2 separate regions of the Homo sapiens genome follow, and region 1 is linked to region 2. Evidence: fine-mapped expression QTL. A gene starts in region 2. The other region holds a variant in brackets. All regions are shown on one strand. Distances are from middle to middle. Region 1 overlaps ARHGAP39 (Rho GTPase activating protein 39). Region 2 holds the start of SLC33A2 (solute carrier family 33 member 2).

The links. PIP is the estimated chance that this variant, and not a neighbour inherited with it, causes the effect.
Region 1: its variant is fine-mapped to the expression of SLC33A2 in whole blood (GTEx, PIP above 0.99).

The regions. Positions count from the first base shown.
Region 1 is chr8:144,553,389-144,569,181 of GRCh38, forward strand. It overlaps ARHGAP39 (Rho GTPase activating protein 39), which reads right to left. Exons shown (of 12, transcript NM_025251.3): 4 at 2,172-2,255. Among named protein-coding and RNA genes, the nearest start is that of C8orf82, 32 kb to the left of the region's middle. The variant TGGTTTCCATCGGACTC/T (reference allele first, on the strand shown) is at 9,045.
Region 2 is chr8:144,498,173-144,513,582 of GRCh38, forward strand. SLC33A2 (solute carrier family 33 member 2) reads left to right here and starts at 10,898. Exons shown (of 5, transcript NM_138431.3): 1 at 10,898-11,843; 2 at 12,188-12,335; 3 at 12,426-12,550; 4 at 12,622-12,731; 5 at 12,819-13,041. The coding sequence starts at 11,162. The coding sequence ends at 12,992. It overlaps GPT (glutamic--pyruvic transaminase), which reads left to right and starts at 5,968. Exons shown (of 11, transcript NM_005309.3): 1 at 5,968-6,294; 2 at 6,432-6,521; 3 at 6,599-6,707; 4 at 6,826-6,959; 5 at 7,074-7,317; 6 at 7,676-7,755; 7 at 7,823-7,959; 8 at 8,060-8,234; 9 at 8,329-8,484; 10 at 8,559-8,671; 11 at 8,738-9,000. The coding sequence starts at 6,133. The coding sequence ends at 8,828. RECQL4 (RecQ like helicase 4) reads right to left here. Exons shown (of 21, transcript NM_004260.4): 13 at 15,399-15,410; 14 at 15,046-15,308; 15 at 14,675-14,966; 16 at 14,470-14,599; 17 at 14,220-14,389; 18 at 13,972-14,152; 19 at 13,739-13,895; 20 at 13,509-13,617; 21 at 13,116-13,383. The coding sequence ends at 13,259. It overlaps PPP1R16A (protein phosphatase 1 regulatory subunit 16A), which reads left to right. Exons shown (of 12, transcript NM_001329443.2): 4 at 598-668; 5 at 744-889; 6 at 1,924-2,027; 7 at 2,095-2,219; 8 at 2,315-2,440; 9 at 2,514-2,589; 10 at 2,670-2,799; 11 at 2,957-3,122; 12 at 3,348-3,949. The coding sequence ends at 3,731. It also overlaps LOC101928953. RefSeq lists enhancers at 1,644-2,305, 5,616-6,276, 9,379-9,508, 9,819-9,948, 11,690-12,313 and silencers at 2,673-3,032, 4,694-4,988, 10,449-11,158.

The DNA of each region.
Region 1 (15,793 bases), 55 kb after region 2:
GAGTCCCACCTCCACGTATCATGAGAACACACAGAGCACGCGCGTTTCAGCAAAAAGGACTGAGAACGTCTCAGGACAGGGTCTGGCTATCCACTTCCCCACCCTGCTCCACCTTCCCAGCTAAACATGCATGCATCACCCCAGGCCACAAGCCCCCCGAGGCAGTACTCTGCTGCTGCACACTGGCAGGCCTCCCTCATACTCCCGTCGACCCAGCCTCTTCTTCCAGACACCACTGGACCTCTGTCCCAAGGTCTCAGCGACAGGATGACAGTGACAGGGGAGGGGCATGAGGAGGTGGCCAAGCTGCCTGGTGTGGAGCAGCCCCCAACCAGGTCACTGAAGGAGGCCAGGCTGCCATCACCACACTGGCCAAGGGCCAGGGATCACCCTCAGGGATGCACGGCACTACTGACAGCAAACACTGGGCTGGGCCGCCCAACGCAGCGGCAAGGCCTCTTCTCCCCGCCCAATGCAGTGGCAAGGCCTCTTCTCCCCGCCAGGTCCAGAGGGAGCCCAATGCCCCACACAGAGCTCGATGTGGGCTGTCGCCTCCCAGCCATTAGTTTACGGCCCAGAGGTGCAGCTGCTGGCCCTGTGTCGGGGGGCCTGGCCAGCACATGGATGTACTCGTGGTCTGAACAGGGATCTTCAGCAGGCTGAATCGTCAGCCAGGTGAAAGGTGCCAGCCTCTGAGAGGGGCCAAAGGCACAACAGAGGCAGAGGCCACAGGAAGTGCGCCAGTGGAGGGTTGCGGGGGCTGCGGACCTCCAGGAGGATCCTTGGACCTTCGTGGAGACCAGGACCTGGTGTGTCAGCTCGTGGGGCCAGAGGCGGCTCCATGGGGCTGAAGGAGGCCGAGCCACCAGAGTGGCCTGGTAGGTGTGAGGGGCAGGACGCTGGGGCGGGCTTAGCTCAGCGACCCACCCCCTACTCCTGACATCCCCAGAGAGGCCAGAAGGTCCTCCTCACCTCACCTGGGACACTGGCTTTCCTGAAAGCTCTGTGGGTGCCACAGATGAGCTCAGGGATAATGCCAGTGAGTCGGGCCCTTGATCCTGGGGGAGAATGGCATCCTGGGGATGGCAGAGCTGAGGCAGTGCTTGGCAAACAAAGACCAGGTGGGCACGTCCACCACGAAGGATGCAGTCGCGTTGGTCCACTAAGCACATGCTGGGTCCACAGGAAGCCCCAAGGCTGGTGACCAGAGCCAGGACCTGATCTGCCACAGTGGGGGTGGCCCTTCCACTACGAGCTCTGTCACTCTGCAGTGACCACTGAGTCAGCTGCCCAGATCCATCCCACTGATGAGGAAACGGAAGCTCGGGAAGGCTATAAAACCTGTCCTCTATCAAACAGCCACACTGCTGGGACCAGGGCAGGCTCTAATTCCCTGCCACAACCCTAATGTTCAACAAATACGAATGTAAGAAACAAACCGTTACCACTTCCAAGCTCCAGCTGTTCAATCGTCTGTGCAGAACGCCAGAGCCCCCTCGGGTCCTCCAGTTCCTCCCCAGCACCACAGTGCCCCTGGGTGGCCCATGCTGCGGACACCCACCCCCCTACAGAAACAGCAGCTGGCCCTGGCCCTGCATCTCCCACAGCAAACTGGTCACCACCTGGCCAAGGAGGAGAAATCCAGGTGCCTGCCTCTGCCTGGATATCCTGGGAGGTGGAGGGAGCGTCCTGCCCGCCCAGCGTGAAGGCAGTAGGGTCTTGAGGGTGGTCTCCAGAACCTTCCAGCAGTCTGTGAGGCTGACCCAGGGCTACTGGAAGCCAAAGCCCACCCCTCCACTGTGATTAGCGCCAACCTTCCAGACGGGCCTGGCAAGTGCTTTGGCACGTGTGGCCTGAGATGCCAGGGGTGGACCTAACTGAGGACCCTCCAGCACTCTGCTGCTCCACCAGGGGCTGAGGGAAGCACCGCAGGCTCCAGGCTGCCTAAGCCAGGCAGAGACAAAGTTCCTAGACAGGGGCTGCCAATGGGCCTGGGGCAGCTCTAAGGGGCTCCTGTCCAGGCCCCTGGCCCTGTGGCCTCCACGGCCTTTCCAGCTCTGGGTCTGTGGTGTTGCTGCTACGCGCCAGGCACCTCCCACTTGCAGTTAGCCTGGCTCACTGAGGAAGCCGCCCTCCATCACAAACGGCCACGCCTGAGAGATGGGTTCTACCTGTAGTGAAGAAGCTGGCCGTCCGCACTGTAATCCCGGTAAATCTCATAGTCCTTCTCAAGGAACACTCCTGGTGGTGAAGAGCTGAAACACAGTAAAATGAAAGAAATATGAATATAAGTGCAATCGTTTACCATAACCAGCCACTCCCTGACTTAAGAATGTGGCACTGCCACCTCAATTTCCTGGAAATAACCTGGCTCCTGCCCCCAGGCTGTATTCTTCATCTTCTGCCCTGAGTCCACCTTCTTCCAGCAGGTACACACCACTGTGGCCCATCCAGAGGCCAGGGAGTGGCTGGGACACCTGGATTTCAGAAGCTTGAACCATTGGAGCTGGGGCTACTGTTCTAAGGGCATAGAGATGGGGTTACTGAGAATCACAGCTTCAGCCAGACATAAAAAGATGACCTGGGAAGGAAGCATGGCTAGAAATAGCCTTGGAGACCAGGCACGGTGGCTCACGCCTGGAATCCCAGCACTGGGGGAGGCTGAGGCGGGCGGATCACGAGGTCAGGAGATCGAGACCATCCTGGCTAACATGGTGAAACCCCGTCTCTACTAAAAATACAAAAAATTAGCCAGGCGTGGTGGCGGGCGCCTGTAGTCCCAGCTACTTGGGAGGCTGAGGCAGGAGAATGGCGTGAACCCGGGAGGCGGAGCGTGCAGTGAGCCGAGATGGCGCCACTGCACTCCAGCCTGGGTGACAGAGCAAGACTCCATCTAAAAAAAAAAAAAAAAAAAAAAGAAATACCCTTGGAGACTGTGACTGCTGAAGGTCAGGGCCTGGAACATAACAAATATCTATGAAATGAATGGCTGAGTAGGCGATTATCCCGACAGATATTCCCAGGTATGTGATCAAACCGATAAGTATTTATGATCTAAAACAACTCTCAGTAGTCCAGAAGTAGAAGAAAATTTACTTAATCTGATTAAGAATATCCAAATTAAACTCAAGGCCTTCATAGTATTCAGCGGCAAAAGCCTGAACCTTCATAGTATTCAGAGGCAAAGGCTGAACCTTCATAGTATTCAGAGGCAAAGGCTGAACCTTCATAGTATTCAGAGGCAAAGCCTGAACCTTCATAGTATTCAGAGGCAAAGGCTGAACCTTCATAGTATTCAGAGGCAAAAGGCTGAACCTTCATAGTATTCAGAGGCAAAAGGCTGAACCTTCATAGTATTCAGAGGCAAAGGCTGAACCTTCATAGTATTCAGAGGCAAAAGGCTGAACCTTCATAGTATTCAGAGGCAAAAGGCTGAACCTTCATAGTATTCAGAGGCAAAGGCTGAACCTTCATAGTATTCAGAGGCAAAAGGCTGAACCTTCATAGTATTCAGAGGCAAAAGGCTGAACCTTCATAGTATTCAGAGGCAAAAGGCTGAACCTTCATAGTATTCAGTGGCAAAAGCCTGAACCTTCATAGTATTCAGAGGCAAAGGCTGAACCTTCATAGTATTCAGTGGCAAAGGCTGAACCTTCATAGTATTCAGCGGCAAAAGCCTGAACCTTCATAGTACTCAGAGGCAAAGGCTGAACCTTCATAGTATTCAGAGGCAAAGGCTGAACCTTCATAGTATTCAGAGGCAAAAGGCTGAACCTTCGTAGTATTCAGAGGCAAAGGCTGAACCTTCGTAGTATTCAGAGGCAAAGGCTGAACCTTCGTAGTATTCAGAGGCAAAGGCTGAACCTTCGTAGTATTCAGTGGCAAAGGCTGAACCTTCGTAGTATTCAGCGGCAAAAGGCTGAACCTTCGTAGTATTCAGAGGCAAAGGCTGAACCTTCGTAGTATTCAGAGGCAAAGGCTGAACCTTCATAGTATTCAGTGGCAAAAGGCTGAACCTTCGTAGTATTCAGCGGCAAAAGGCTGAACCTTCGTAGTATTCAGAGGCAAAGGCTGAACCTTCGTAGTATTCAGTGGCAAAAGGCTGAACCTTCGTAGTATTCAGCGGCAAAAGGCTGAACCTTCATCGTATTCAGAGGCAAAGGCTGAACCTTCATAGTATTCAGCGGCAAAAGGCTGAACCTTCGTAGTATTCAGAGGCAAAGGCTGAACCTTCGTAGTATTCAGAGGCAAAGGCTGAACCTTCGTAGTATTCAGAGGCAAAGCCTGAACCTTCATAGTATTCAGAGGCAAAGGCTGAACCTTCATAGTATTCAGCGGCAAAAGGCTGAACCTTCGTAGTATTCAGTGGCAAAAGGCTGAACCTTCGTAGTATTCAGTGGCAAAAGGCTGAAAGCATACCCATGAAAGTCAGGGCAAGAATTATTTATCCTTACCACCATTGTTTAATACAGTTTTTGGAAGTGCTAGGCAATGCAACTGGACAAGAAAAAAAACCACAAAAGATTCAAATATTTGAAAGGAAGACATAAAAATGATCATCAATTGTCAGCCTAGAGAAATTAAAACAATCGAATGAGAAACTTCAGCAGTGCGGAGAGACCTCACTTACGTACCACCTGCCATCAGAGGCTGTGCTGTGTGGTGGTGACTGGCTGGAAACCAAGCTCACCTTTATTAAAGCAACAGTAACAACAAAATACTAGGCACAGGTTAGTGAGGAATGTGCTGTATCAATATGAATAATACTGTAAAGTCTTGTTGAGACATATAAAAGAAGACTTGAATACATAACAGAGAAACACACACTCCCGGATGGGAAAATTCAATAAATATAAAGATATGACTTCTTTTTAAATTAGTTAATATGTTTAATGTCTTTTTTTTTGTTTGGCTGGGGGATGGAGTCTCTCTCTCTCACCCTGGCTTGAATGCAGTGGTGTGATCTTGATTTCAGCTCACTGCAACCTCCATCTCCCAGGTTCAAGCAATTCTCCTGCCTCAGCCTCCCAAGTAGCTGGGACTATAGGCACCTGCCACCACGCCTGGCTAATTTTTGTATTTTTATTAGAGACGGGGTTTTGCCATGTTGGTCAGGCTAGTCTCGAACTCCTGACATCAGGTGATCCACCTGCCTTGGCCTCCCAAAGTGCTGGCATTACAGGCGTGAGTCACCGCGCCTGGCCATAAATTCTAGTAATAATTTCATTCAGTGGCAACAGTAGGGAGCTAAAGAAAAATGTTCAGCGGGAGTACTTTCAGAACTTAAGAATGTTCAGTATGTTCACCCCCTACTCTGCTCCCTGCAAAAAGCCCCATATAAAAATAGCTGAGAAGTAATACAGAAAGGATGATATAAACAGTAATATAAAGCTACATAATTAGGCTGGGCACGGTGGCTCATGCCTGTAATCCCAGCACTTTGGGAGGCTGAGGTGGGTGGATCACTTGAGGTCAGGAGTTCGAGACCAGCCTGGCCAACATAGCAAAACCTCGTCTCTACTAAAAATACAAAAACTAGGGCCGGGCACGGTAGCTTACACTGTAATCCCAGCACTTTGGGAGGCCAAGGTGGGCGGATCACAAGGTCAAGAGTTTGAGACCAGCCTGGCCAATATGGTGAAACCCTGTCTCTATTAAAAATATAAAAAATTAGCCAGGTGTGGTGGTGGGCACCTGTAGTCCCAGCTACTCGGGAGGCTGAGGCAGGAGAATGGCGTGAACCCAGGGGGCAGAGCTTACAGTGAGCCAAGATTGCACCACTACACTCCAGCCTGGGCGACAGAGCGAGACTCTGTCTCAAAACAAAAAACAAAAAAACAAAAACTAGCCGGAAGGGTGACACATGCCTGTGGTCACAGTATCAGGAGAATTGTTTGAACCTGGGAGGTGGAGCTTGCAGTGAGCCGAGATCGTGCAAGCCCGGGTGACAGAGTGACTTTGTCTCCAAAAAAAAAAAAAAAAAAAAAAAAAAAAGCTACATAATTAAAGCAGTGTAGTACTAGTAGATGGATGGATTCTGGAATGCAACAGAAAGCGCAAGTATTGACCCAAATATATAAAATAATTCAGGAGACAGGGATTAAAATTTTTGTACACAGCAAGTAGGCTGGAGACCAATCGTGTGTCTGAGGACAGGGACTAAGTAAGCACATTGCTCCTACTGAGAAATATGACATGGCTGCTGAAATACGGTTGTGGTAAAATATTTTAAAAACCTCAAGGATATATGCCAGAAAATTAAGGCAAGTTGATGATCCCTTATCTAAAATGCTTGGGATCGGAAGAGTTTTGGATTTTGGATTTTTTAGGATTTTGGAATATCTACATATACATATACATAATGAGGTATCTTGGGAGTAGGACCCAAGTCTAAATACAAAATTCATTTATGTTTCATATATACCTTATCCACATAGCCTGAAGGCAATTTTATAGAATATGTTTAATAATTCTGTGCATGAAACAAAGTTTTGACTGTGTTTTAATGGCAACCTATCACCTGAGGTCAGACGTGGAAGTTTCCACTTGTGGCATCACGTTGACACTCAAAACGTTCCAGATCATGGAGCACTTTGAATTTTGTGTGCTTGGCCTGTGGTAGACAGCACTAATATCTATTACAAGTGTTTATTTTCTTTTATGTAATTATACATATCTTCTATGACTAATGTACATTGCTTCTCAAATAAAAAGGTCATTTTAAAAATGTTTTAAAATCAGTTGTATCAACAAATGGCAAACTTGCCGGGCACAGTGACTCACGCCTGTAATTCCAACACTTTGGGAGGCCAAGGTGAGTGGATCACTTGAGGTCAGGAGTTTGAGACCAGCCTGGCCAACATGGTGAAACCCCCGTCTCTACTAAAAATACAATAAGTAGCCGGGTGTGGTGGCGCGTGCCTATAATCCCAGCTACTTGGGAGGCTGAGGCAGGAGAATCGCTTGAACCCAAGAGGCAGAGGTTGCAGTGAGCTGGGATCTTGCCATTGCACTCCAGCCTGGGCAACAAAACGAGACTCCGTCTCAAAAAAACAAAACAAAATAAAAAAACAAATGGCAAACGTTAAAGTTGGCTGGTGGTCAATATCTTCAAACACATAATTACGGTACAGAACAAAAAGCTAGAAATATGGAATATGCCGAGATGGAAAACCATATAGGCAAAGACATCTATAAGATTGCTGTATCTGTATCTAACCCTCCTACCATTTCTGACTCGTCACCAAAAGATGACTGGGGTCCTGCAAGTGGGCCTTCAATGTTATGCTCTCGAGGACCAGCGGTGCGCGGGTTACTCTGTTACTGAGTTAGATGAATATCATGTTCCTGAGGCGGTGATGCTATGGCTGTGCTAAAGGAGCATGACGTCAACACTACTAGAGCAAGTACTCGTCACAACAGACTCAACTTACACAACTGTCAGAAACATTTTAAACAGAAACAGAAACTCTCAAGTGGAGTATTTCATCACGGCAGAATTACTTTACAAAAATAAAAATGACCCTTACACTAACGTATGTTCTAATGTGGCTCACTTGTTAGCCAAGCAAGGAAAACTGTTCACTGATGGGAAATTAATTACATTGTGTTGATTATGGCATCTAAAACTGTGTCGAGAGATGATAAACTTGCTTAAGACTATTAGCCTTTTGGCAAGAGCAGCTGCTTGAGGAGTTGAGGACAGTGAGAGCAACACAACAGCCCTAGGACCCCAGTGGTTTCCATTGCACCCCAGCGGTTTCCATCACACCCCAGTGGTTTCCATCGCACCCCAGCAGTTTCCATCGGACTCACCCCAGTGGTTTCCATCACACTCCAGTGGTTTCCATCACACTCCAGTGGTGTCCATCAGACCCCAGTGGTTTCCATCACACTCCAGTGGTTTCCATCACATTCCAGTGGTTTCCATCAGACCCCAGTGCTTTCCATCACATCCCAGTGGTTTCCATCGGGCCCCAGTGGTTTCCATCGGACTCACCCCAGTGGTGTCCATCACACTCCAGTGGTTTCCATCACACTCCAGTGGTGTCCATCACACTCCAGTGGTTTCCATCACACTCCAGTGGTTTCCATCACACTCCAGTGGTTTCCATCAGACTCCAGTGGTTTCCATCAGACCCCAGTGGTTTCCATCACACTCCAGTGGTTTCGATCGGACCCCAGTGGTTTCCATCGGACCCCAGTGGTTTCCATCGCGCTCCAGTGGTTTCCATCGGACCCCAGTGGTTTCCATCGCGCTCCAGTGGTTTCCATCGCGCTCCAGTGGTTTCCATCGCGCTCCAGTGGTTTCCATCACACTCCAGTGGTTTCCATCGGACTTAATCCAGTGGTTTCCATCGGACTTAATCCAGTGGTTTCCATCGGACTTACTCCAGTGGTTTCCATCGGACCCCAGTGCTTTCCATCACATCCCAGTGGTTTCCATCGGGCTCCAGTGGTTTCCATTGGACTCACCCCAGTGGTTTCCATCACACTCCAGTGGTTTCCATCGCACTCCAGTGGTTTCCATCACACTCCAGTGGTTTCCATCACACTCCAGTGGTTTCCATCGGACTCCAGTGGTTTCCATCGGACCCCAGTGGTTTCCATCACACTCCAGTGGTTTCCATCACACTCCAGTGGTTTCCATCGGACTTACTCCAGTGGTTTCCATCGGACTTACTCCAGTGGTTTCCATCGGACTTACTCCAGTGGTTTCCATCGGACTTACTCCAGTGGTTTCCATCGGACTTACTCCAGTGGTTTCCATCAGACCCCAGTGCTTTCCATCACATCCCAGTGGTTTCCATCGGGCTCCAGTGGTTTCCATTGGACTCACCCCAGTGGTTTCCATCACACTCCAGTGGTTTCCATCGTGCTCCAGTGGTTTCCATCGTGCTCCAGTGGTTTCCATCGGGCTCCAGTGGTTTCCATCACGCTCCAGTGGTTTCCATCACGCTCCAGTGGTTTCCATCGGACCCCAGTGGTTTCCATCGCGCTCCAGTGGTTTCCATCGCGCTCCAGTGGTTTCCATCGGACCCCAG[TGGTTTCCATCGGACTC/T]CAGTGGTTTCCATCGCACTCCAGTGGTTTCCATCGCACTCCAGTGGTTTCCATCGGACTCACTCCAGTGGTTTCCATCGGACTCCAGTGGTTTCCATCACACTCCAGTGGTTTCCATCACACTCCAGTGGTTTCCATTACACTCCAGTGGTTTCCATCGGACTCACTCCAGTGGTTTCCATCGGACCCCAGTGGTTACCATCGGACTCCAGTGGTTTCCATCGGACTCACTCCAGTGGTTTCCATCGGACTCCAGTGGTTTCCATCGGACTCACTCCAGTGGTTTCCATCGCACCCCAGTGGTTTCCATTGGACTCCAGTGGTTTCCATCGGACTCACTCCAGTGGTTTCCATCGGACTCCAGTGGTTTCCATCACACTCCAGTGGTTTCCATCGGACTCACTCCAGTGGTTTCCACAGACTAACTCCAGTGGTTTCCATCGGACTCCAGTGGTTTCCTTGGCTCTTGATGAGCTGACAGACGTTACTGGTACTGCTATGTTTGAAGGAGTCAATATTGAGCTTGAAGTGACCAAAGAATTAGCCTCTATCACTTGCTCTATGTGGAACAACTAGAACACACAGTATTTTCAAATAAGTTGTGAAAATACTAATTTTGTATGACCTGAAGTGGAATCTACTAAGATGAACTACAACTGATCATGCTAAGAATATATGTGGATCAGAAAAGGCTTACTTAGACAAACTTACAAAGCTTATGAAAACTGAAGATAATGTGAAAATATAAGCCTATGTTTATTGTGTTTTTCATTAGCAGCTACTTTGTGAAAAGTATTTGAATCTATTAGGAGTTACTGAAACAGTGGCATCAACACGAACTTCATGCACTCTCATGACTCAGCCATCATTAGTTCCATGAATTTTTGTCAGAAATCAATGATAAATATTCTCACTTTCCGACCACACAAAATTCAACAGCTTCGCAGTGGCAAAGTTTTATTGTCATTTTTTAGAAAACTCTGGGCCAAGACTAAAAGTCTCTGCATGAGAAAAACCTCCCTCAACCACTATTAAACACTGAAAAGGGCTTGGCACCCTAAAATTTTAGGGCTCAGCCCTAAAATCCCAATGCTTTAGGGGGCTGAGTTAGGAGGATCACTTGAGACGAGGAGTTCAAGACCAGCCTGGAAAGATAGTGAGACCTTATCTCTATAAAAAAAAAATAATAATAATAAAAGAAAATTAGCTGGGCACAGTGGCATATGCCTATAGTCCTAGCTGCTCTGGAGGAGAATCACTGGAGCCCAGGAGTTCAAGGCTGCAGTGAGCTGTGATCACACCACTGCATTCTAGCATGGGTAACAGCGAGACCTTGTATCTAAAAAAAATAATAATAAAATAAATAAATAAATAAGTGCACAATTAATGACTTTGGAAATTAATTTTTGTTGTAGGCTTGACAACATTTCTTAATGAATTCAACCTAACATTACAAATCAAACAGTGCATATGTGTGAAACTTATATTGCAGTAAAGTTATTTCGATGTCAACTAATGTCTGAATCATAAGTAATGTCAAGCTGCTTTATCTACTTCCCATGGTGTCTAAAATTAAAACAGAAAGTGAGATTTCCATTCCCACACAAATTTGCAGCAGATATATTTTCTGAGCTCAAAATATAGATCCAGCAGAATTTGATAAATGCCTTCCAAATCATATGCTCATGGACTGACACCAGTATTTGGCAGTAGCTCTCTGTGTAAAAAGACATTTTTGCAGATGAAGCATGTAAAATGTCATCACAAATAACAAGAGATGAACATCTGCAATTGGTTCTGATAGTCAGGAATGCCAACTCCTTTTGGTTTCTCTGAGCAGCAGCACTGGCCCCCGTTGTCCCCTGAGCACACCAAATGCTCTTCCGTCTCGGGACGTGCCACTTGGTGCTTCCCCTGCTGGGATGGCTTCCCCTCATATATCAACAACTTTTGCTCACAAGATGGAAGTTCTTGCTCCTCAGAATGCACTGAATCTCTACCAATAACTTGGAGAAGGGGAAAAAAAGGGAACTATTACAAGAAAACTCAACCAGTTGAACCTAACCCCAAACTGACACAAATGAAAGTAGTTGAGAAAGACATTAACAGTTACTAAAGTTGTATTCCATATGTTCAAAAAGCTAGAGAAATGACTGAACATGTTAAGTAGAGACGTAGAATATACAAAAAAGAACCCAATCAAAGTTCTAGAGATAAGCATTATGATGTCTGAGAGGAAAAATACACTGGGGCTGGGCATGGAGACTCACGCCTATAATCCTAGCACTTTGAGAGGCTGAGGCAGGAGGACCACTTGAGGCCAGGAGTCTGAGACCAGCCTGGGCAACATAGTGAGATCTCTAAAAAAAAAAAAAAAGGCCAGGCATGGTGACTCAGCCTGTAATCCCAGCACTTTGGGAGGCCAAGATGGGGGCGAGTCATCTGAGGTCAGGAGTTCGAGACCAACCTGACCAATATGATGAAGCCCTGTCTCTCCTAAAACACACAAAAATTAGCCAGGCGTGGAAGCATGTGCATGTAATCCTAGCTACTCGGGAGGCTGAGACAGGAGACTCGCTTGAACCCGGGAGGCAGAGGTTGCCGTGAGCCGAGATTGCGCCATTGCACTCCAGCCTGGGCAACAAGAGTGAATTCCATCTCAAAAAAAAAATTATATACATATAAATTAGCTAGGTGTGGTAATGTGTGCCTGTTGTCTCAGCTACTTGGGAGGCTGAGAGGACTGTCTGGGCCAGGAGGTTGAGGCTGCAGTGAGCCGAGCCTGCATCACTGCACTCCAGCCTGGGCAACGGCAAGGCCTTGCCTCAAAACCAAACCAAACCAAACCCACCACTAGAAAGAAAAAACGCTTCGTGAATTTGAAAGCACAACAACAGAAATGATCCAAAATTAAAGCTACAAAAAACAGAGGAAAAATAAAGAAAAAAGAGAAAGTGGGACTGAGTGCAGTGGTTCATGCCCGTAATTCCAGCATGGTGGGAGGTCAAGGCGGGTGGATCACTTGAGGTCAGGAGTTCAAGGCCAGACTGGGCAATGTGGCGAAACCCCGTCTCTACTAAAAATACAAAAATTAGCCAGGCGCGGTGGCAGGTGTCTGTAGTCCCAGCCACTCGGGAGGCTGAGGCAGGAGAATTGCTTGAACCCAGGAGGTAGAGGTGCAGTGAGCTGAGATTGCACCACTGCACTCCAGCCTGGGTGACAGAGCGAGATTCCATCTTAAAAAACAAAAGAAAAGAAAATGGAAATTATCCCACAGAGTCAGAGAGCTGCAGGATGACTTCAAGTGACCTGACACATAACTGCAGTGCTGGGTGGGGGTGTGAGCACAAACACAGTCTAAAGAAAAGGCCAGGCACAGTGGCTCACACTTGTCGCACTACGGGAGGCTGAGGCGGGAGGATCGCTTGAGCCCAGGAGTTTGAGACCAGCCTGGGAAAAACAGAGAGACCCCAACTCTACAAAAAAAAAAAAAAAAGGCTGGGTACGGAAGTCAGCAAGCTTGTGGTCCCAGCTACTCAGGAAGCAGAGGTGGGAGGATCGCTTGAGCCCAGGAGGTTGACGCCGCCATCATCTGTGATTGCGCCATTGCACTTCAGCCTGGGCTACAGAGCGAGACCCTGTCTCAACAACAAAAAAAGTTTTGTTTTGGGAGAAAAAATGACTGAAAATTTCTCAAACGTGATGAAGACCATAAACTGAGAGGTCCAAGAAGCTACACGAACCCCAGCACAAGGAACACGAAGAAAATGACATAAACCCCTATCTTAATCAAATTGCTTAAAATGAGCAAAATAGAGAAAATAAAGGAGCTAGAGCCAGGTGTGGTGGCTCACTCCTGCAAATCCAGTGCTTTGGGGGCCGAGGCAGGTGGATCGCTTGAGTCCAAGAGTTTGAGACCACCCTGGGCAACATGGTAAAACCCCATCTCTACCAAAAATACAAAAATAAGCTGGGTGTGGTGGTGTGCACCTGTGGTCCCAGGTGCTGAGGTGGGAGGACAGTTTGAGATTGGGAGGCAAAGTGTGCAATGAGCAGAGATCACGCCATTCCACTCCAGCCTGGGTGAAAGAGCCAGACCCTGCCTCAAAAAAATAGAATGAAATTGGCTGGGTATGGTAGCTCATGCCTGTAATCCCGGCACTTTGGGAGGCCAAGGTGGGCAGATCACTTGAGGTCAGGAGTTCGAGGCCAGCCTGGCCAACATGGTGAAACGCCGGCTCTACTAAAAATACAAAATTAGCTGGGCATGGTGGTGTGCGCCTGTAATCCCAGATACTTGGGAGACTGGGGCAGGAGAATTGCTGGAAGCCAGGAGGTGGAGGTTGCAGTGAGCCGAGATCGTGCCACTGCGCTCCAGCCTAGGTGACATAGTGAGACTCCATCTCAAAAAAAGAAAAAAAAAAAAAAGAAATAAAGGAGCTAGAGTTAAAAGACACATTATGTAAAGAAATACAAAGAATGACAGCTGATTTCTTGTTAGAAATGATGCAAGCCAGAAGACAATGAAGTGGCAAAAAGGAATAAATCTTAACCTACACCCAGCAAAAGTAGCTTTCAAAAATGAAAATGAGGCCAGGTGTGGTGGCTGATGTGGGCGGCAAGCCACCCAGGTGCTGAGGCAAGAGACTGAAGGCACGAGCTGTTCCAGTATGATAAAATATATAAAATAAGAATAGTTATACCAGATATAGATCTTAGATATGATTATATATGAATATCATTGATCAATAGTTTGTAGCAATTACTCTTTATTCCAATATTATAATAATCCTTGCTCTACAATCATAACCTAGGAAAAACCAGGCCATACAGAGATAGGAACTGAGGGGACATAGTGAGGAGTGACCAGAAGACAAGAGTGCGAGCCTTCTGTTATGCCCAGACAGGGCCACCAGAGGGCTCCTTGGTCTAGCGGTAACGCCAGCGTCTGGGAAGACACCCGTTGCCAAGCGGACCGTGGTCTAGCAGTAGCGTCAGTATCAAGGGAAAACACCCGCTACTTAGCGGACCAGGAAAGGGAGTCTCCCTTTCCCGGGGGGAGTTTAGAGAAGACTCTACTCCTCCACCTCTTGTGGAGGGCCTGACATCAGTCAGGCTCGCCTGCAGTTATCCAGAGGCCTAACCATCTCCCTGTGATGCTGTGCTTCAGTGGTCACGTTCCTAGTCCACCTTCATGTTCCATCCTGTACACCTGGCTCTGCCTTCTAGATAGCAGTAGAAAATTAGTGAAAGTACTAAAAGTCTCTGATATGCAGAAATAATGGCGTAAGTTGTTTCTCTCTCTCTCTCCTCTCTCTCTGCCTCGGCTGCCAGGCAGGGAAGGGCCCCCTGGCCAGTGGACATGTGACCCACGTGGCTTTACCTATCATTGGAGATGGCTCACTCTCCTTATCCTGCCCCTTTGTCTTGTATCCAATAAATATCAGCGCAGCCTGGCATTCAGGGCCACTACCGGTCTCCATGTCTTGGTGGTAGTGGTCCCCTGGGCCCAGCTGTCTTTTCTTTTATCTCTTTGTCTTGTGTCTTTATTTCTACAATCTCGTCTCCGCACATGGGGAGAAAACCCACTGACCCTGTGGGGCTGGACCCTACAGGCTGATGCCTGTAATCCCAGCACCTTGGGAGGCTGAGGTGGGCAGATCACCTGAGGTCAGGAGTTTGAGATCAGCCTGGCCAACATGGTGAACTCTCGTCTTTGCCAAAAAAATACAAAAATTAGCTGGGTGTGGTGGCACACGCCTGTAGTCCCAGCTACTTGGGAGGCTAAGGCAGGAGAATCACATGAACCTGGCAGGTGGAGGATGCAGTGAGCCGAGATCACACCACTGCACTCCAGCCTGGGTGACAGAGTGAGACTCTGTCTCAAAAAAAAAAAAAAAAAAAAAAAAAGATGGAAGACTTTTTCAAAAACACAAAAGCTAAAAGAAGTCATTACCAGCAGACTTGCACTTCAGTAAATGTTACATGAAGTCCTTGAAGCAGAAAGAAATGCCACCAGATGGACACAAATCTGGATCTACACAAGCAATCAAGAGCACAGGAAACAGGAACTGTGTGGGGTGATGTAGAAATGTTTGCTTAGTATTAAAATCTCTTTAAATGATAACTGACTGTTTAAAGTACAAATGATAACAATGTATTAAGACATTGATAACATGTAGAAAAGTAACATACTTGACAGCAACAGGACAAAATTAGAGAGAAATGGAGCCTAATAAATGCTGTTAGGTTCTTACACCATTTATGAAGCGGGATAATATCATTTGAAAGTCAACTATGGTAAGTTAATATAAGATAATACATAAACCCTAAAACAATCACTAAAAAGTAGCAAAGAGCCATAATTAAGAATCCAACAAGGGGAGATAAAGGTGAATTTTAAAATGCTCGATTAGTGCAGAAGGAAAAAAAAAAGAGGAAAAAGGGATTGAGAACAAAAGAGACAACAAATCAAACAGCGAGACGACAGATTTACGCCTAAGCCTGACCCTAGCCATGCAAATCATCACACTGTGTTAATGGTCTAATCCCCCCATAAACAGGCAGAGACGTTCAGACTGAATAAAAACATGTGACCTAATAATATGATGCCTACAGGAAAACTCACAATAAAGACAAAAGAATAGGTAAAAAGTAAAAGGTTGAAATGAGAGATACCATGCTAACATGAATCAAATTAATATTGGAGTGCCAAGATTAATGTAAGTAGATT
Region 2 (15,410 bases):
GGGAAGAGGCGGAGGGTGCCATGGTCCACAGGGAGCTGTGGGAAGGTGGGAGCCCTCCTGCTGCACCCCAGGCACCGTCAGGGAGAACCCTGGTGACCTGGGCGAGAGCTGGGCCCGAGTTGGGATCTTTGATGGGGAGGGGAGTGAGAGCAGGGATGTGCTCTGGTGGTGGGGAGCCTCAGGTCAGGTCCCAGAGGACCCAGGAGAGCTCATGAACACAGGGCTGGCAGGTTGTCAGGGAAGAGCCGAAGGAGCTGTGGTAGCCTCCAGGCAGGGAGCTCTTCCTGGGCTGGAGGGAGGTGTGGGATTGTTGGAGTGCTGCTCTCACACAGGAGCACGGCCTGTTCTGGGGGTCGGAGGGCTGGAGCACCACCATGAAGGGCCTGCAGGTGGGTGGAGGCAGAGGGCTTCTGGGAGTGTGACCGGCCTGGGCCAGACAGATGCCTGGTGCTTCTGCCCCCACCCCTGGGCTCTGGTGTGCCTCCTGCCATCGGCACCACTGTCTTCCTTGTCCTTCCCTGGGTCCTGGGCCGAAGCACAGTTGACAGGACCTGACCAGGGGCAGGACCCTGTCCTCACCTCGCCACCTTTTTGCAGTCCGCCAGTTCCTTGGGAGTGGGGTCAGCCCTGACTTGGCCAACGAGGACGGCCTGACGGCCCTGCACCAGGTCAGCCTGCACTGGGTGTGGGCAGGGTGGGGGCTGGCCCCCGTGCTCTGGTCGCTCACGTGGCACGGTTTGCAGTGCTGCATTGATGATTTCCGAGAGATGGTGCAGCAGCTCCTGGAGGCTGGGGCCAACATCAATGCCTGTGACAGTGAGTGCTGGACGCCTCTGCATGCTGCGGCCACCTGCGGCCACCTGCACCTGGTGGAGCTGCTCATCGCCAGGTAGGGCCTGTTGGGCGTCCTTGGCAGGGAGAGGCTTCCTCTCAGATGGCCGCTCAGGAGGCTCCTCTTGGGCAGTATCTGTGGCTCTCGGCCTCCTGTGTTCCCGCCTTCACCTTTGCTGACCCTGCCTGTGTCCTGGCATGGAGAGCAGGGCCTGGGGCTCCAGGGGAATGGGCATGTGCCCAGGGCAGCGCGGTCCCTGCCTCCCCAGCATTCGTCCTCCTGCCGAGAGGGCAGGCCTCGGGCCCCCCCCCAGAGTGTGCACAGAGAAATGTCTTGGTCAGTGAGGAGGGCAGAACTGCTAAGGAGGGAAGCAGAGTGAGGAGGCCAGGTGGCTTGGGAGGAGAGGGTACCTGAGCACAGGTAGGGCCTTTACCTTTAACACAGAGGGACGTAGAGCGGGGGGAACTCTGAGCAGGGAGGGTCCATGAGCCTCCTCCCTTCCCCTTTGCTCCAGGCATCTGTAGTGGGAGAGAGGTCAGGGCTGCGGTCATTCTCGAGTGCCCCTGTGAGGCCGGGTGGGGTGTGCATGGCGGTCGCGTCACACACAGGCGCTGCGGGGCAGGCGGGGATGTGGGGTGTCCACAGGTAGGCCTGCTCCTCCACTGCACACAGACACCCCCTTCTGTGTTCTGGGCTCCCCTTCACCGCCCTTCTTCCCTGGGGCCATGCTCCCCACAGCTCAGCAGCCCCTCAGCGTGGCTGCCTGGTCCTGCACCCCCGCCACCCTGTGCTCCCTGCTCCCCAGCAGGCAGGCCCATCCAATGCATGTTTATGGGGGCACCGCTGCCCCTGGAGGTGCCAGGAACCTGGATCCCTGGATGGATAGAGACTGCAGGAGGCCTGTCTGGCTTAATGACAGGATCTAGGACAGCCGATGGGCCCCAAGGCTGCCTCTCCCAGCAGCAGGTGGACAGGGTGCCTCCTGAGGGGCAGCCCTGGGCTGAGGGGCCCTGGCGGGGACTTCTCCAAGTGAGGAGCCTGGCAAGCGGGGAAGGGCCTTGTGCCCAGCACCCCGTCCGTCTTCCCTGCAGTGGCGCCAATCTCCTGGCGGTCAACACCGACGGGAACATGCCCTATGACCTGTGTGATGATGAGCAGACGCTGGACTGCCTGGAGACTGCCATGGCCGACCGTGGTAGGTGCGGCGGTGCGGCTGTGGGAGGGCTGCCGGTCGCGCTCCCTCTGAGCCTGCCGCCTCGCAGGCATCACCCAGGACAGCATCGAGGCCGCCCGGGCCGTGCCAGAACTGCGCATGCTGGACGACATCCGGAGCCGGCTGCAGGCCGGGGCAGACCTCCATGCCCCCCTGGACCACGGGGCCACGCTGGTGAGGGCTGGGGGGTGAGGGGCACACGGGGCTGGGGGCCTCGCTACTTGGAGGTGGGGGATGGGGCCGAATTCAGGCCGGGCGCTTGCCTGCAGCTGCACGTCGCAGCCGCCAACGGGTTCAGCGAGGCGGCTGCCCTGCTGCTGGAACACCGAGCCAGCCTGAGCGCTAAGGACCAAGACGGCTGGGAGCCGCTGCACGCCGCGGCCTACTGGGGCCAGGTGAGTGCGGGCGGGAGCAGGTGGGAGGGGGCTTCCAGCGCAGCAGTCTGCAGCTCCGGCCTGCCGTCCACAGGTGCCCCTGGTGGAGCTGCTCGTGGCGCACGGGGCCGACCTGAACGCAAAGTCCCTGATGGACGAGACGCCCCTTGGTGAGCTTGCGGGGCCCACCTCCACCTGGGGGAGAGGACAGGCGGGGAGGGCGCCCCTGACGCCTGCGCCCACTTCTCAGATGTGTGCGGGGACGAGGAGGTGCGGGCCAAGCTGCTGGAGCTGAAGCACAAGCACGACGCCCTCCTGCGCGCCCAGAGCCGCCAGCGCTCCTTGCTGCGCCGCCGCACCTCCAGCGCCGGCAGCCGCGGGTGAGCGCCGCCCCCAGCAGGCCCCGCCCCGGGCTTGGCCCCGCGGACGTCAGCCCCGGGCGGAGTGCCAGCCGAACTGGGGGCAGAGTCCGAGGGGGTGGGCGGGGTCCTCCGGGCACTCCCCTTCCCCTCACTCCCTCTCCTCTCTCCTCCCCAGGAAGGTGGTGAGGCGGGTGAGCCTAACCCAGCGCACCGACCTGTACCGCAAGCAGCACGCCCAGGAGGCCATCGTGTGGCAACAGCCGCCGCCCACCAGCCCGGAGCCGCCCGAGGACAACGATGACCGCCAGACAGGCGCAGAGCTCAGGCCGCCGCCCCCGGAGGTGAGCGCCCCGTCCCTGCTCCGCCCAGCGCAGGGGTGGGCCTGGCTCTGCCCTGGTTCTCTCTCCGCTTGGACCCCCTCCTGCCTGTGTCAGGAATGGTGCCCTGCAGGGGCCAGCTTTTGCCCCATCTCTCCTGTCTGTCCCTTCATGACCATACAGCCTGAACCCAAGGCCAGGGAGGGGGGAGGAGCCTCCTGATGGCTCTGGGACCTTCACTGCCCGCAGGAGGACAACCCCGAAGTGGTCAGGCCGCACAATGGCCGAGTAGGGGGCTCCCCAGTGCGGCATCTATACTCCAAGCGACTAGACCGGAGTGTCTCCTACCAGCTGAGCCCCCTGGACAGCACCACCCCCCACACCCTGGTCCACGACAAGGCCCACCACACCCTGGCTGACCTGAAGCGCCAGCGAGCTGCTGCCAAGCTGCAGCGACCCCCACCTGAGGGGCCCGAGAGCCCTGAGACAGCTGAGCCTGGCCTGCCTGGTGACACGGTGACCCCCCAGCCTGACTGTGGCTTCAGGGCAGGCGGGGACCCACCCCTGCTCAAGCTCACAGCCCCGGCGGTGGAGGCTCCCGTGGAGAGGAGGCCGTGCTGCCTGCTCATGTGAGGCTGTTGCTCAGCATGCAGGGGCCCTGTCGCGGGCACAGCCCAAGGCTGCCTCCCCACGGTGCGTGCCCTGGTGCTGCGGGTGCAGCACGGAAACCCCGGCTTCTACTGTACAGGACACTGGCCCCTCTCAGGTCAGAAGACATGCCTGGAGGGATGTCTGGCTGCAAAGACTATTTTTATCCTGCAACTCTTGATAAAGGGCTGTTTTGCCATGGAGCCTCGTTGTGTGTTGTGTGTCTCAGCTGGGTCGCTGTCCCACAGTGGGGAGTGGGTTGTGCTGTTTGGCTGGGGTGCCACCCGTGCCTGTGAGCATGAAAGCCTGTAGGTGCGCGCTGGGGCATGTGGCAGCCCTGGCTGTGTGGGAGTGAGGCTCACAGCCACTGGGCTGGAAGCCTGGGCCTCACCCACTCCCTCCCATGCTCAGCCTCCTGGAGCCTCCTCCGTAACCCTTTGCTCTCCTGAGAGGAGCCAGGTGCTTTGAAGGAGCCTCCATGGGGGCCAGGGCCTAGGGTGTCTGTGCTGAGGGGCGGAAGGTGGGGGTCCCAGGGACCATGGCTTGGAAAGGGAGGTGGTGTTTTCCACAAGACTCTTGTGTCAGAGCCAGAGGGGCAAAACAAGCACAAGGCTGTGTCAGAAGCTCCCTGGGGGGGTTGTGGGTCCCCAGTTCCTGGCACGCAGCCTTAATCCTGGGGCCTGGCTGCCAGCTTCCGCCTGGGCTGGCATAGGGGACACGCAGTTGGCCACTCTGGCTCTGAGCTGGCTTGGCACAATGTGTCAGGGTGAGGGGGCCCCTTAGGGGCCTCAAGCAGGAGGGCTGAGGGCACCGCTGGTTCGTCTGTTCATGGTGGGCGGCTTTGTGTGGCCACCAGTGCTGGGTGGTGTGGGTTTGGGCTGTTCTCCCTCCTGGCTCAGCACGGGCCCGTCAGCCCAGTGTCCTTTGGGCCTGCCCTTCCCCTAGCATCCCTGGTTGGAAGGGTGTCCTCACAGGGCTGTGGGCGGGCCAGGGCTGGCTGCTGGTTAAATTTAGTGTGGGGGGTGGGGCAGCTGCCCAAGGTCCACCTGCCACCAGGGCTGCCACTTGGACTCCCTTGCCAGGGGGCGGGCAGGGGCTGGCTCTGCCTGGGGCCAGGCCCATGTTAACCTGTGCCCCGGCCTGGGGGCCAGAGGGGCAGGCCTGCGCACGGGGAGGCTGTTGTGGCAGCGGAACAGAGACGTGCACGGTGAGAGGCCTGGGGGCCGGCTGTCCAGGGCTCCCGATGGCTTTTCTCCCAGCCAGCAGGATCAGAGGAGCCAAGGTCCGACTTGGGCCTGGCTGGTTGCCCACAGCCCTGCTCAGAGGGCCGGCTCCCTGACCCCCATGGTTCAGGTTTCGGTGCCCGACGCTGGGGTGGGCCAGCGTGGAGCCTGGCCTTTCAGCTCAGCAGGCCTGTGGAGGTGGGGCTCTGACGGCCTATCCCAGCTCGTTTCCTACTCTCTCCTCCAATCGGGAACAAGAGGGCTGGAGAGCTCAGGTCACCCCTAGCCTCGGGTGTGTCCCAAGGGCAACCCCCAGCTGGTGCCTGGTGAAAGGGCATGACAGCAGCCACGGTGTGAGCTGTCCCAGGGCTCAGGGCTGGACTGCCTGGCTCCAGCCCCCTCCCCCAGCCCCTCGCAGTGCTCATCAGGGACCAAGGTCCAGCTACAGAGCTCTTGCAGCCTCTGGGCCATAGCTGCCAGCTCTGGAGGGTCCAGATGGAACCCAGAGCCTGAACACCCCTCCCCTCCCCCCAGCACCCCCTGGATTCCTGAGGCCTGGCTCAGTTAATAGGAGACAGGTCCGCTGGCCCAAGCAAAGATGCGGGTGCCACGAGGGCCAGGCCTCGGCCAAGCCCTGCTGGGGTAAATCCCAGCAGCCCAGGCTCCAGTCTCGCCTCGGGGGTCCCTCCTTGCCAGCTCTGCCAGCCCCTCAGGGCTGCTGGGCACCCCTTCACCTCCTGAGCACCCCAGGTGCTCAGCCCTCTCCCCCTCCCCCCATGTCTAGTCCCTCAGAGCTGTCCGGACTGACGTCTGTACCTACCCCCCATGTGGGTCTCCTGCTCTCCCTTCGTGGGGACACTAGGCAGGCACTGGGCCTTGCCCCAAGCCCCGCCTGCCACCTCACCCACTGCCTCTGCCTCCCTGGGGCAGAGCTGTTCCCAGACGGGTGGGGCGGGGCCCAACTGTCCCCAGCTCCTTCAGCCCTTTCTGTCCCTCCCAGTGAGGCCAGCTGCGGTGAAGAGGGTGCTCTCTTGCCTGGAGTTCCCTCTGCTACGGCTGCCCCCTCCCAGCCCTGGCCCACTAAGCCAGACCCAGCTGTCGCCATTCCCACTTCTGGTCCTGCCACCTCCTGAGCTGCCTTCCCGCCTGGTCTGGGTAGAGTCATGGCCTCGAGCACAGGTGACCGGAGCCAGGCGGTGAGGCATGGACTGAGGGCGAAGGTGCTGACGCTGGACGGCATGAACCCGCGTGTGCGGAGAGTGGAGTACGCAGTGCGTGGCCCCATAGTGCAGCGAGCCTTGGAGCTGGAGCAGGAGCTGCGCCAGGTATGGCCCAGGGCCCCTCGCTGCCCTCCAGGTCACAATGGGGTGGCCGAGTTGGCCCCAGCCCCACTGGCACATGGGACAAGGGCTGAGGGGTTAGGTAGGGCACAGTCTCCCTGCCTGCTCCCCTCCCCTCCCAGGGTGTGAAGAAGCCTTTCACCGAGGTCATCCGTGCCAACATCGGGGACGCACAGGCTATGGGGCAGAGGCCCATCACCTTCCTGCGCCAGGTGAGGCTCCTGCACTGCCCGGAGCACCCCCCCACCCCCAGCCCATGTGCCCTGGCCTCAGCACTCCGTCTTCCCAGGTCTTGGCCCTCTGTGTTAACCCTGATCTTCTGAGCAGCCCCAACTTCCCTGACGATGCCAAGAAAAGGGCGGAGCGCATCTTGCAGGCGTGTGGGGGCCACAGTCTGGGTGAGAGCCAGGGCCAGGAGGAAGCAGAGGGCCGCCCTGCCACTGGAGGAGGGAAGTCCCTTGGGAGGGCTGAGGAGAACTTCACCTGTACTTCCCATCCTGTCCTGCCCGAGTCCAGGGGCCTACAGCGTCAGCTCCGGCATCCAGCTGATCCGGGAGGACGTGGCGCGGTACATTGAGAGGCGTGACGGAGGCATCCCTGCGGACCCCAACAACGTCTTCCTGTCCACAGGGGCCAGCGATGCCATCGTGGTAGGCTGGGCATGGGCACCAAGACATTCCTGACACTGCAGAGGGGGCGCCCAGGGTGGGGGACAGGTGCGGCCCCAGGCCTCGCCAACCCTGCCTTCCCCTTCCTTTCCGCAGACGGTGCTGAAGCTGCTGGTGGCCGGCGAGGGCCACACACGCACGGGTGTGCTCATCCCCATCCCCCAGTACCCACTCTACTCGGCCACGCTGGCAGAGCTGGGCGCAGTGCAGGTGGATTACTACCTGGACGAGGAGCGTGCCTGGGCGCTGGACGTGGCCGAGCTTCACCGTGCACTGGGCCAGGCGCGTGACCACTGCCGCCCTCGTGCGCTCTGTGTCATCAACCCTGGCAACCCCACCGGTGCGTTCCCCGCCGCCCCGCCCCACTCCCCCCGCGCCCACGTTGCGTTCCCCGCCGCCCCGCCCCACTCCCCCCGCGCCCACGGTGCGTTCCCCGCCGCCCCGCCCCACTCCCCCCGCGCCCACGGTGCGTTCCCCGCCGCCCCGCCCCACTCCCCCCGCGCCCACGGTGCGTTCCCCGCCGCCCCGCCCCACTCCCTCCGCGCCCACGGTGCGTTCCCCGCCGCCCCGCCCCACTCCTCCCGCACCCACGTGCGCCCTGGCCCAGGCAGTGCCGGGTCCGCTGGACCCCGGCTGCCCAGCGGAGGGCAGTGCGCCCCCTTGGCTCACCCAGCACTGCTGCCTCCCCGGCACCCCAGGGCAGGTGCAGACCCGCGAGTGCATCGAGGCCGTGATCCGCTTCGCCTTCGAAGAGCGGCTCTTTCTGCTGGCGGACGAGGTGCGCGGCGCGGGGGAGCGGGAAGCCGGGCAACAGTCCGCCCCCGTGACGCCTTGCGCCCTTCCAGGTGTACCAGGACAACGTGTACGCCGCGGGTTCGCAGTTCCACTCATTCAAGAAGGTGCTCATGGAGATGGGGCCGCCCTACGCCGGGCAGCAGGAGCTTGCCTCCTTCCACTCCACCTCCAAGGGCTACATGGGCGAGTGCGTGCGTACGAGGCGGGTGGGGGCTCGCGGGCCATGGCCAGGCCCTCCTCGCCCGATGGGCCACCCCCTCCTCCGCACCTGACCTGGCCGTGCGCAGGTGCGGGTTCCGCGGCGGCTATGTGGAGGTGGTGAACATGGACGCTGCAGTGCAGCAGCAGATGCTGAAGCTGATGAGTGTGCGGCTGTGCCCGCCGGTGCCAGGACAGGCCCTGCTGGACCTGGTGGTCAGCCCGCCCGCGCCCACCGACCCCTCCTTTGCGCAGTTCCAGGCTGTGAGTTGGGGGCAGGAGGGGGTCCAGGTGACCTAATCAGGGGTGGGGGATGCCGAGTGCCGTGCCCTGATGGGCCCTCCCTCCGCGGCCACAGGAGAAGCAGGCAGTGCTGGCAGAGCTGGCGGCCAAGGCCAAGCTCACCGAGCAGGTCTTCAATGAGGCTCCTGGCATCAGCTGCAACCCAGTGCAGGGCGCCATGTACTCCTTCCCGCGCGTGCAGCTGCCCCCGCGGGCGGTGGAGCGCGCTCAGGTCAGGCGGGGGCGGGGCCTGCGGGGTGGGCAGGGGGGGCCGGGCATCCCTCTCTGACGGCTCTCCGTCCACAGGAGCTGGGCCTGGCCCCCGATATGTTCTTCTGCCTGCGCCTCCTGGAGGAGACCGGCATCTGCGTGGTGCCAGGGAGCGGCTTTGGGCAGCGGGAAGGCACCTACCACTTCCGGTGAGGCCTGGCCCTCACTCCCTGTCCCGCCACCCTGGCCCTTCACTCACTGTCAACTCCTTTCAGGATGACCATTCTGCCCCCCTTGGAGAAACTGCGGCTGCTGCTGGAGAAGCTGAGCAGGTTCCATGCCAAGTTCACCCTCGAGTACTCCTGAGCACCCCAGCTGGGGCCAGGCTGGGTCGCCCTGGACTGTGTGCTCAGGAGCCCTGGGAGGCTCTGGAGCCCACTGTACTTGCTCTTGATGCCTGGCGGGGTGGGGTGGGGGGGGTGCTGGGCCCCTGCCTCTCTGCAGGTCCCTAATAAAGCTGTGTGGCAGTCTGACTCCAGGGAGGAAGCGTTGGCAGCTGCGTGGCCCGCTCCCACCTGCCTACCCTTCTTGCAGGCCTGAGTCCCTTCAGAGAAGGGACCTTCCACGGCCACCACCCACCTCTTCCTCCTGAAGACCCCGTGCCCACCATAGGCTGGGTCTTCCCTCTGGCCTCTGGTTGTGGGGCAGAGCCCGTCAGATCACACAGAAATGGGTTGAGAGGGTCCAGAGTGTGAGGAAAGCGCAGGCCCCACACCCCTTTGTGGAAGCCCCCAAGAATCTAGGGAGCCAGGGGCCCAGGTGGCCACCCGAAGAAACACAGCCTTTCCTGAGGAAGGCACAGTGAACTGCCTCCTTCCTGGCTCCCTTTCCTGTGAGGTCCATGTCTTCCCTGGGGCAGGGGGAAATACTAAACCAGCATGGTGCTGGCTGGTCAGGGTGACTGACAGCTCAGGAAGGAAGTCTTGGTTCTCTTACCCAAGGAAGCAGGGGTGGGGCCACTGTCTGGGGGGCCAGAGACCACCTTTGGTGTCATTGTGTGGTGCAGTCCTTCGGCTGGGTGGAGTGGGAGGCAGAGGGAGAGGATAAGGGAGCGTCCCAGGGGAGGGCTGGGGCTGGAGGAGGCAGGGGCTGGGCTGAGCGGGAGTGGGCAGCGCTGTGTCCTGGCCTGGGGAGCATGGCTGAGCACCTACTACATGCAGACACTGCTGGGGGGTCACTCAATCTGCACAGATGCTCTTCTGAAGTAGGCATGATAGTCCCCATTTGATAGACGTGGAAACCTGCAACCCAAAAACCTGCTGAGCTGACAAGAAACCCCCTCAGAGGCCTCGGCAGCCAGAAAAATGCGTTGGGTCCAGTGCCCTCAAGTCCGCCAAGGACAGGGCTGGCTTTAGAGACTCACAAACTTGGGAGATAGGACTGGCCAAGGGCACCTGGTTTTTTTCGCTCTGGAGATGGTTCTTAACCACAGGCCACACACACTTCACAGCCTCATCTGGCCCTCGGGAGCCCCAGAGGGCACAGCTCTGGGCAGGAGACACAGCAGGTGGGCCCCTCCCTTGGCAGGGCGGGCTCGAATCAGGCAGGGTGCTCCTAGCCTTGTCACCGGACACCGAAGGGCGTCACGGGCAGTGGCTGGCGGTGTCCTTCTGAGCTAAGCTGGGTCCTGACCTTTCACACTTCCCTCCTAACTTCCATGGCTCTGTCACCGCCTTACGGAGGAGCTGAAGCCACAGACACAGCAAGGTTGGGGTCCGCACCGGAAGTATCCAGTGGTAGACGGCGGAACCCTTAAGAAACGGACGCCTTCATGCGGGCGGCTGGAGAAGCGGGGGCTGGGCACTGCAGCAACCACGCTTCGGCTGACACCAGGAAGGAAGCACGCCTGGAGCGGATCCGAAACTACTGAGAGGGGCCAGGGCTGGCCGTGGGCGCAGGCCGATCCTTACATTCGAGGCCGGCCCAGCTCTGTAGCTTCCCCCTCTGGGCCTCTCACCCGCGCAGGACCTCGGTGGGAGCGCGCACGTGGCGGGGCGGGGGGCCGCGGGCCCGAGCCCGGACTGGCCACCGGGGGCGCCCGCGAGCTGACGCTCTGGCCCGTTGCGGTCTCTGTGGCCCGCGCGACCTTCCGGCCCTGGAGCCGGTGGCCGCGGGGCTCCAGCGACGCCGTGTGGTCCGTGCTCCGCTCTGTGGCTCCAGGGGGCCGAGAAACTGCTGAGAGTCCGGCCCGGCCGGCAGTGCTGGGCGCGGGCCGAGGGCCCCGGGAGGCAGCGGCCCCGCCCTCTTTACCTGCGGCCTCGCAGAGCATGCTGGGAGCCGCGGGAGGCAGTGGCCCCGCTCCCCTCACCTGCGGTATCGCAGAGCATGGTGGGAGCCCCGGGAGGCAGTGGCCCCGCCCCCTTCCCTGCGGCCGCGCAGAGCATGCCGGGAGCCGCCGGCCGCCGGTGTCCGGACCGCTCGCCCCCGTTTGGACCCGACTTCGGTTCTTCTGGGGTGTTGATGCTCCTAAAGCCCGAGAGCACGTGTCCAGACCCTAGCCTGTACGACGCTGACTCTGCCCGGTCCCAGAACCAAAGCCATGCCGGGGTGTGGCCTCTGACCCCACGCGGAGGGGACCTCGCCTTGCGGGACCCCACCTGGAACCCGACCTCCCAGCCTCGCAGCCGGCCTGAGCCGCCATGCGCGGGAAGTTGCTGCCGCTGGCCGGCCTCTACCTGGTGCAGGGCCTGCCCTACGGGCTCCAGTCCGGCCTCCTGCCAGTGCTGCTGCGTGCCGGCGGCCTCTCGCTGACGCGCGTGGGGCTGGCCAAGGTTCTGTACGCTCCGTGGCTGCTCAAGCTGGCTTGGGCCCCGCTGGTGGACGCGCAGGGCTCGGCGAGGGCCTGGGTGACGCGCAGCACGGCGGGCCTGGGCCTGGTGTGTGGGCTGCTTGCCGGGCTGCCCCCTCCTGGAGCTGGCCAGGCCGGGCTGCCCGCCGCTGTGGCGGGGTTGCTGCTGTTGTTGAACCTGGGTGCCGCCATGCAGGATGTGGCCCTGGACGCGCTGGCTGTGCAGCTGCTGGAGCCGGCCGAACTGGGGCCGGGCAATACCGTGCAGGTGGTCGCGTACAAGCTGGGGGCCGCGCTAGCTGGGGGCGCGCTGCTGGCGCTGCTGCCCACCTTCTCGTGGCCGCAACTCTTTCTGCTCCTGGCTGCCACCTACTGGCTGGCCGCGGCCCTGGCCTGGGCTGCACCAGCCCTGCGGCGGCTCCCACAGCAGCCCCCTTCCGAGCAGCGTCCCCACACCGCGCACCTTCTGCGGGACGTGCTAGCCGTGCCGGGGACCGTGTGGACGGCAGGCTTTGTGCTCACCTACAAGCTGGGTGAGTGAGGCCTCGAGCCAGGCAACAGCAGTTGGGGCTTCCGGGACAGCTCCAGGTGTGTCCCCAGGGGCTTGCAACCCATTACAGGGCCACGCTCTTTCTGGGGTATGACCTGCAAGACTTGGCCCTGACATCCGGGGCTCTGCAGCTGGGCCTTGTGTCTTGTCCGCCCCCAGCTCTAGCCCCATCCCTGAGCGCTCTCTCGGGCTGCCCCACTTCTCCCCCAGTATCTGCAGCTCTGGAACACTGAGGAGAGCAGGGCAGGACTGAGGGCCCAGGTGGGGAGAAGGGAGGTGGGGGCAGATATGGAACCTCCCGTGCTCATGCCCCCCCCACCACCCAAGGTGAGCAGGGTGCCAGCAGCCTGTTTCCTCTTCTCCTGCTGGACCACGGCGTTTCTGCTCCCGAGTTGGGACTGTGGAATGGTGTGGGTGCTGTGGTCTGCTCCATCGCTGGCTCCTCCCTGGGTGGGACCTTGCTGGCCAAGCACTGGTGAGCCCTCCCCAGTGTACCCTGCCCACCCACTTGTACCTGAGCTGCCCCCAATCCACTATACTGACCCATTTCCCACCCCCATCCCAGGAAACTGCTGCCTCTGTTGAGGTCGGTGCTGCGCTTCCGCCTCGGGGGCCTAGCCTGTCAGACTGCCTTGGTCTTCCACCTGGACACCCTGGGGGCCAGCATGGACGCTGGCACAATCTTGAGAGGTGAGGGGCTGGCCTTGAGGAGGAAGAGAGGGGCCAGGAGCCTGGGGCACTGCTGACTTCTGCCCTCCCAGGGTCAGCCTTGCTGAGCCTATGTCTGCAGCACTTCTTGGGAGGCCTGGTCACCACAGTCACCTTCACTGGGATGATGCGCTGCAGCCAGCTGGCCCCCAGGGCCCTGCAGGTGAGTAGATGTAGCAGGGACACAAGAGAGACCACGGGGCTGGGGCTGTGTGGGCCTGACCTTGACCGTGACCCCCACCCCCCTCAGGCCACACACTACAGCCTTCTGGCCACGCTGGAGCTGCTGGGGAAGCTGCTGCTGGGCACTCTGGCCGGAGGCCTGGCTGATGGGTTGGGGCCACATCCCTGCTTCTTGCTCCTGCTCATCCTCTCTGCCTTTCCCGTTCTGTACCTGGACCTAGCACCCAGCACCTTTCTCTGAGCTGAGTGGCTGGAGTGGTCAATAAAGCCACATGTGCCTGTGGCCCAGATGTCTCTGTGCCTGGAATATGTGATGTGCTTGTCCCCAGCTTGTGGGGGTTGCCTCATTGGCCAAGAGGGCCCATAAAAACAAAGTGAGCATTTTTTATTCTGCATTTTGGAGCCTCCTCGTTCCCACACCCTGTGGCAGGTTTTGCCCAGGTCCTCAGTCACTGCCCTAGCCTCTGACAACCCCAGCTCTACCCGACATCCCCCAATGCAGTGCAGTCAGCGGGCCACCTGCAGGAGCTCTTCCGTGGCCAGGCCCACCAGGGCATGGAAGCTCAGGTGCAGGTATTTTCTCCAGAAGCGTCGGTCCTGCCCGTACACCTGGGCCGGGTAGCAGGGGCTTCCTACGGTGGAGCCAAGACACAGCCGTGAGCCCCAGCCCCAGCCTGCAGCGGGTGGAGCCTCCCAGGCCTCACCTGCCCCAGCCCCCAGCCCCAGCCTGCAGCGGGTGGGGCCTCCCAGGCCTCACCGATGCCGTGGAAGATGCGGGCCACAGCCCTGCTGGAGAACTTCTCCTCTGGCCTCAGGGACAGGAACTGGCGGATGTCGCAGCGGACCTGGTCCTCCCAATCCTGGAGCTGTGTGGACAGGCACATCAGGCTTCCTCTGAGCTCCCGTGGCACTGCATCCACAGAGCAAGCCCCATGCAGCCCAGGGAACCTGCAACCCCGATGAGCTGCCTGGCCTTACTGCACTCACTCTGGCCTGCCCTGGCTCGGGGCCCTGTGCGTCCTCCATGCCTCCCGGCTCCTGCCCTTCCTCTTCCTCAAAGTAGCGGCCGAGCAGGTCCTTGAGCCTGGTGCTGCGCTCCTCATCCTGCTGCTCCAGGCAGGGCCCGCAGCTGGGGAAGGCTACGCTGTGGGGAGGAGCCTGTCAGAGCTGATCACTGCGGGAGGGTGGATGGTCCCAGGCCCCGCCCGCCTCCTCCCAACCTGTGAAAGGCCTGGAAGGTTCTGCGCAGACGGGCCAGGGCCTGGCGCTCCCGGGCCTGCACACGGCCATAGAGGAAGTCACATATCTGGTCCTTCTCCTCAGCGGTCAAGTCCCCCGGGCTGCGAAGGTGGAAGGCCAGCTCACTGAACTCCACAAGCACCCCTGTCCCACGCCGCACACCTGCCGGAAAGCATGTCAGATGCAGGCAGGCAGCGTCCAGGGCGGTGTGGGGTGGGGAGAGGCGCACCTGTCCTGGGCTCGTGGTCCCACTGCAGCTGGCAGAGAGCCCGCCGCACAGAGGCCAGCTCCCAGCCCATGGAGTCCACCAGCTTGACCATGTCAAACTCCACGGAGCTGCTGCCTTGCCCTGGGTCCTCAGGCAGCTGCTGGGCCAAGCACACAGCCAAAGGGGGACACCTGTGCCCAGGGAAAAAGGGACATGTGGCCAACAGCCCTGATTCTCCAACCTCGTCTCCAACTGGGCAGGGCGTGCTTACCTGTGGGCCAGGGCCTGGAGCTGGGCAGGGCCCCCAGGGCAGTTCAGACGGCAATGGGTATAGGTGGTCGCCAGCAGCTCCAGCCAGTGGTGTGGGTGCAGCTCCAGGTAGCACAGCAAAGTCTCGATGGCTGGGGGCAGAGCAGGGCTCAGCGGACGCGGGGACAGCCCCTCCACACCCCTGTGGCTTACCCCAGGTTCCTCACCCTCCTCCGGCATGTCCAAAGCCTGTACGGTAAGCTGTATTGGGAGTGCCCGCTCATGGCCCATGCAGACCCTTCTGGGTCCTGGGGCTGCTTGGTGGCTAAGCTGCTCAGCCTCTTGAGGGGGGTACTTGGGCACAGGCCTCTCCCCACCCACGGCCCCTTCCTGCTCCGAGGGCGGCCTGGTGCAGGTGCAGGTGCAGGCTGGGAACACGCGCTGTACCAGCCTCTTCACAGCCAGGAAGTCCGTGCTGTCGGCGTGCACATGTCTGCGCAGCTCTCGCAGGTCTTCGCCCTGCAGGGCAACTTTCATGAGGGTGGGGTGGACCACTGGGGGCTCGAGCACTGGCAGTGTGGGGGGGGGGGGTGCCAACCTGGGGCTGCAGGAAGAGGTGGCAGTGGGCAGGCTGCCCGTCACGCCCGGCCCGGCCCACGGCCTGCACGTAGCTCTCGAAGCTTGGGGGCAGCCCCAGATGCAGCACAGCCCGCACATCTGGCCGGTCCAGCCCCATCCCAAAGGCCACCGTGGCCACCACCACCCGCAACTGGCCCTGCATGAAGGCTCGCTGTACCCGCCGCCGTTCCCGGCTGCACATGCCCGCGTGGTAGGCCTCGGCTGTGGTTTTGGGGGCACGACCTTTGGGGAAGACAGGCAGATGGTCAGTGGGATGGGACCATGTGTGCCCAAGGTGGGTCCACGGGGACACCAGCTCTGTCCATGCCGCACCTCCAGACCCTG